Linked DNA regions of Homo sapiens. The protein of the gene in region 2 interacts with the protein of the main gene of each other region in a pairwise test. Each region holds a gene or a part of one and is shown on either strand. Other genes may lie near its edges.

Evidence for each region. The genes of interacting proteins can lie anywhere in the genome.
Region 1: the proteins of SHFL (region 2) and KIF1B interact in binary tests that used the Homo sapiens proteins (3 or more experiments, as listed by UniProt).

Annotation. Positions count from the first base shown.
Region 1 is NC_000001.11:10,364,070-10,367,569, reverse strand, and holds part of KIF1B (kinesin-like protein KIF1B), read right to left. Parts: intron 2,471-3,500; coding exon 2,325-2,470; intron 2,162-2,324; coding exon 1,922-2,161; intron 1-1,921. UniProt on the Homo sapiens protein: Has a plus-end-directed microtubule motor activity and functions as a motor for transport of vesicles and organelles along microtubules.
Region 2 is NC_000019.10:10,089,317-10,091,529, reverse strand, and holds part of SHFL (shiftless antiviral inhibitor of ribosomal frameshifting protein), read right to left. Parts: coding exon of another isoform or gene 2,152-2,213; intron 2,052-2,151; coding exon of another isoform or gene 2,041-2,051; exon of another isoform or gene 1,880-2,040; intron 1,874-1,879; coding exon 1,835-1,873; intron 1,633-1,834; coding exon 1,483-1,632; intron 281-1,482; coding exon 177-280; exon of another isoform or gene 55-176; coding exon 1-54.

The sequences.
Region 1 (3,500 bases), on a different chromosome or scaffold from region 2:
GAGCAAGACTCCATCTCAAAAAAAAAAAAAATTTAATAAAGATAAAAATAAAAAATAAAAACATCATAGTGATCTCTTGACCTCACAATCCGCCCACCTCAGCCTCCCAAAGTGCTGGGATTACAGGCGTGTGCCACCGCACCCAGCCACCTCTGCCTTCTTTAAAAAACTTTTATCTGGCTGGGCGTCCACACACCTGTAATCCTAGCACTTTGGGAGGCTGAGGCGGGTGGATCACCTGAGGTCAGGAGTTCAAGACCAGCCTGGCCAACATGGTGAAACTCTGTCTCTACTAAAAATACAAAAATTAGCCAGGTGTGGTGGCACATGCCTGTACTCCAAGCTACTTGGGAGGCTGAGGAAGGAGAATCGCTTGAACCTGGGAAGTGGAGGTTGCAGTGAGCCAAGATCATGCCACTGCATCCCAGCCTGTGTGACAGGAGTGAGACTCCATCTCAAAAAAAATAAAATTTTAAAAAGCTTTTATCATTTCTCATCAGATTACTGTAATAAAGATAAAGAATTCTCCCTTCCTCAGTGTATCTCTTCACCATCAATCCATTCTCTTTATTGCTGCCAGAGAAATATATATATTTTTTGAGATGGTGTCTCACTCTGTTGCCCAGGCTGGAGTGCAGTGGCGCGATCTCGGCTCACTGCAGCCTCCGCCACCTGGGTTCAAGCGATTCTCCTGCCTCAGCCTCCTTAGTAGCTGGGACTACAGGCGCACGCCACCACGTTCGGCTAATTTTTGTATTTTTAGTAGACACGGGGTTTCACCATGTTGGCCAGGATGGTCTCAATCTCCTGACCTTGTGATCCACCTGCCTCGGCCTCTCAAAGTGGTGGGATTACAGGCGTGAGCCACCGCCCCTCGCCAGAAATCTTTCTAAAACACAAATACCTGTTTAACATATTTCTGCCTTGCTCCCATCATCCACTCTAAACTCTTCAGTGCAGTATACAAGATTCTTCACTCCACACCTCCTGTTCCAGTCCCACGTGAATTCCCCAAGACTGATCATGCAGGACACCACTGCCTCCCTCCTGATCACGCAGGACACCGCTGCCTCCCTCCTGATCACGCAAGACACCGCTGCCTCCCTCCTGATCACGCAGGACACCACTGCCTCCCTCCTGATCACGCAGGTGTCGACACTGCTGCCTCCCTCCTGCGCATCCTTTCAAGGTCAGCTCATGAGCTCCCCACCATAGACACTTCTCCTCTGACTCCCATAGCATTTGAAACACACATCTCTATTATATGCTTGTGACCTAATATTCTGCAACCTTTATATTTTTTAATTTTTTAATTTTTTATTATTTTATTTTATTTTTTGAGATGGAGTGTCACTCTGTCGCTCAGGCTGGAGCACAGTGGAGCTATCTCGGCTCACTGCAATCTCCGCCTCCTGGGTTCAAGCAATTCTCCTGCCTCAGCCTCCTGAGTAGCTGGGATTACAGGCGCTCGCCACCACGCCTGGCTAATTTTTGTATTTTTAGTAGAGACAGGGTTTCACCATGTTGGCCAGGCTGGTCTCGAACTCCAGACCTCAGGTAATCCACCTGCCTCAGCCCTGCAAAGTGCTGGGATTACAGGTGTGAGCCACCATGCCTGGCCTAATTTTTGTTTTTGTAGAGACAAGGTCTCACTATGTTAGCCTGGGCTTGTCTTTAACTCCTGGGCTCAAGCAATCCCTTTGCTTCAGCCTCCCAAAGTGGTGGGATAATAGGCATCAGGCACTGTGCCTGGCCCTGTAAGCTTGTTGAGGGTAGGAACTGCGTCTTTTTATTTCTACATTCACAGTATTATCACAGGCCTTCAAACACCTCGAACAAAGGTGTTGAAAATGAATAAACCGAGAGGCTAGTTTGTGGAGCCTTGTGGGAAGACGTTCAGCAAAGAGGAAGGGATTCACACCTTGGTAGCCAGCTCTTTCTCTCGGTCCACCAGGCTTTCGATGTCTCCTGAATCATAGCCACTGCTCTCGCTAGGTGTGATGGCGCTTTCAAAGGTAGTGGTTGAGATCTGAGAGGAGATACTGGTGGAGGTGCTGAGGGTCCCACTGCTGAGGCTGGGGGATAACGAGTCGCTCAGGGATTTGGGGATGCTGTCACCAAGTCTCTCACGCAGCAGCAAAAAGTGGCGGGTTTTTTCCACCTGAGAAGATCAATACTACTGCTATAGCAAACACAAAGCTCGTTAAGACCTCAGGAGAGAAAAGTGAAAAGCTATGATCACATGCAGCAGCGGGGAGGAAGACTGATACTTTGGCAATCTTGTCCGAGAGTTCTTGCATCTGAACAACCCTGCCCCTGGATACCTCATGTAGGAGCTCCAGCTTCTCCAGCTCCCACTGGTGCTCAAGGATGAGGCTGTCTCCACGGGGCCGCCAGCCTGCTAAGTTCTCTTCTCCCCGCACATATGCCACTGACGTATCTAAGATTTTTCTTCTCCTTCTCTGCATACCTAAGACAAGAGGAAACAAGTTTTTGTTTCAGAAAAAAAATTCAATTCCAAGTTTAGGTCAAAACGAATTAATAATTCTTTTTTTTTTTTTTTTGAGATGGAGTCTCGCTCTGTTGCCCAGGCTGGAGTGCAGTGGCGTGATCTCAGCCCACTGCAAGCTCCGCCTCCTGGGTTCATGCCATTCTCCTGCCTCAGCCTCCCGAGTAGCTGAGACTACAGGTGCCCGCCACCATGCCCAGCTAATTTTTTGTATTTTTAGTAGAGACCGGGTTTCACTGTGTTAGCCAGGATGGTCTCGATCTCCTGACCTCGTGATCCACCTGCCTCAGCCTCCCAAAGTGCTGGAATTACAGGCGTGAGCCACCGCGCCTGGCCACGAATTAATAATTCTTATACGTAGCAAACTAAGACAGTTTGGTCTGAAGATATATGGGATTTTGTTTAAATAGCAAAGCAACTGAACGTTTTTAAAAACTGAGTTTTACATTCTTTGATAATTATGAAGACTGGGATGCAATTTAAGAAAATGATAAAATTATGATGTTAGGTGAAAATGCAGAAATATTAAATAGTCTGTAGTAGTCTATACACTATGGGGCCGGGCGTGATGGCTCACGCCTGTAATCCCAGCACTTTGGGAGGCTGAGGTGGGCTATCATCTGAGGTCAGGAGTTCGAGACCAGCCTGGCCAACATAGTGAAACCCCATCTCTACTAAAAATACAAAAATTAGCTGGGCATGGTGGTGGGTGCTTGCAAACCCAGCTACTCAGGAGGCTGAGGCAGGAGAATCACTTGAACCCAGGAGGCAGAGGTTGCAGTGAGCCAAGATGGCGCCACCACACTCCAGCCTGGGTGACACAGCGAGACTCTGTCTCAAAAAAAAAAAAAAAAAAAAAAGATCCTGTCCCTAAAAATAAAAATTTTTAAAAAGACGGAAGGGAATACACACACACATACACACACTCAGTAGCTCACTGGCTGACAGATGACAGAGAACTTTAGCCTCTATTATTTCCTGTTAATTTTTT
Region 2 (2,213 bases):
ACGGGGAAGCCGCACCCGTAGCAGGGGGACGGGGACCCCATCTGTGCCCAGCCCCTGGGGGCGGGCAGGGCTGTGAGGGTCCGAGGGCGAGGCTGGGCCAGGGTGGGGCCAGGGCAGGGAGGGGCAGGGCTGGGGTAGGGCAGGGCTGAGGGGGAGCTGGGGGTCAGCGCCCTCACCGGAAGTTGTGCCGACACTTCGGGCAGTGGAACTCAGCCAGGCCCCACATCTTGTCAGCTGGCACTGGCTCGTAGCGCTTCCGGCATTTCCGGCACCGGGATACCTGGTGGTGGTGGGCAGGAAGGTACAGAGAGGGGACCAAGGATTGTCAGAGGTGTCTGAGGTTGGGGTCAGGGCTAGCAGTGTGCTGCAGCGGCTGGCCTCAGCTTGAGCAACCCAACTCAATCAGTGACTTCACGTGGGTAGCCTGATATTGACCATGGTGGGAATATTTACACCACAGAAATTGGCAAACACTACACATCTTGGCTTCCTGCCTCTTTTGCAAGAACTAGTTAAGCATTGACCAGAAGTGAACTACTAGTCAGGAGGTTCAGAAGCCAGATTTGGGGCTGTGTTTTTGAGGTCAGATTTGGTTTCTTTTCTTTCTTTCTTTTTTTTTTTAGAGACAGAGTCTTGCTCTGTCACCCAGGCTGGAATGCAGTGTTGTGATCATGGCTTACTGCAGCCTCGACCTCCCAGGCTCAAACGATCCTCCCACCTCAGCCTCCTGAGTAGTTGGGACCACAGGCACACACCACCACTCCCAGCTAATTAAAAAAATTTTTTTTTGCCAGGCACAGTGGCTCATGCCTGTAATCCCAGCACTTTGGGAGGCTGAGGTGGTAGATTGCTTGAGCCCAGGAGTTTGAGACCAGCTTGGGCAACATGGCAAAACCCCATCTCCACACACACACACAAAATACAAAAATTAGCCAAGTGTGGTGGCGCAGGCCTGTAGTCCCAGCTGCTTGGGAGGTTGAGGTGGGAGGATCACCTGAGGCCAGGAGGTGGAGGCTGCAGTGAGCTATGATCCCGCCACTGCACTCCAGCCTGGGTGACAGGGCGAGACCCCCTGTCTTCAAAACACATTTTTTTTTGGAGACAGGGTCTCACCCTGTCACCCAGGCTGGTCTCAAACTCCTAAATTCAAGCGATCCTCCCTACTTAGCCTCCCAAAACACTGAGATTGCAGCCATGAGCCACTGCGCCTGGCCAGGTTTGATTTCTGTAGTAGCTGTTCAATTGTGGGTCAAGGGTCAGGTTCTGGGGTAAGGAGGTATTGGGCTTCTCACATTTAAGGTCAGAAGTCCAGTCCTGGGTCAGGGGTTGGGATCAGAGATCAAGGCTGAGCTCTGAGTTTGGAGGTCAGGGATTGGACTCTCAGTGATTGAAATCCTTAGGTCAGAGGTACAGTCACTGAGGATAGGAGTCAGGAGTGGAGTTCGGGACAGTCAAAGTCGAGGTTAAGTTTTAGGTCATCACCTCCTTCCGCTGGGGCACGCGGCGCCACCAGACGTGGTCGCAGGAGGAGCAGGCAAACTGCCGGTCCACAGCAGGGATAAGGTCGTCCTGGGCACGTTGAAACATGCGTAGGTTGGCTTCTGTCAGTGGCAGGAGGGAGGTCGCCACTGCCTGTGGAATGGGGCAGGTGGGGATGAGGTGGGGGGGTGTCACCCCTTCTGCACCAACATAAGCATCAGCCCTCCTCTCCCTACAGACGAGTCCTCTTCCTGCCCCAGTGAATATCTCCCCTCCTGCCCTAATGGACATCCTTCTGTGCCTGCAGATGTCCCCCTCCCAACTCCCCCATCCCAAGCCCTAGCCACCAACTCACCTGAATGTCCCGGTCCTGCTTCATATCTTCTGGTGGATCCTGGGTGGAGATAGCAGGGGCAGAAACTGGGGATGGGGCTCAGGCCTCTTTCCACCCGTTTGCTGGGGGAGGCCCCCGGCCGCAATGAGTAGGGTGCCCCTAACTCGCCAGAAGCTCACAGAGCACCACTCACTTATTGAGAGCCAGGTGTGTGGCCTCAGTTGTCCTCATAGCAGCCCTGAGAGGTGGGCACACCTGTTACCTTATTGCTCAGATGGGGAAACTGAGGCTTAGGGGAGGGCTTGCCTGAGTGAGGCTAGCCTGACCCCCATACTCACTTCCTGCCTGCAAATGCCACATGCTTGTTGATGTTGTGACATATCGCCCCTTTGAGGCCACG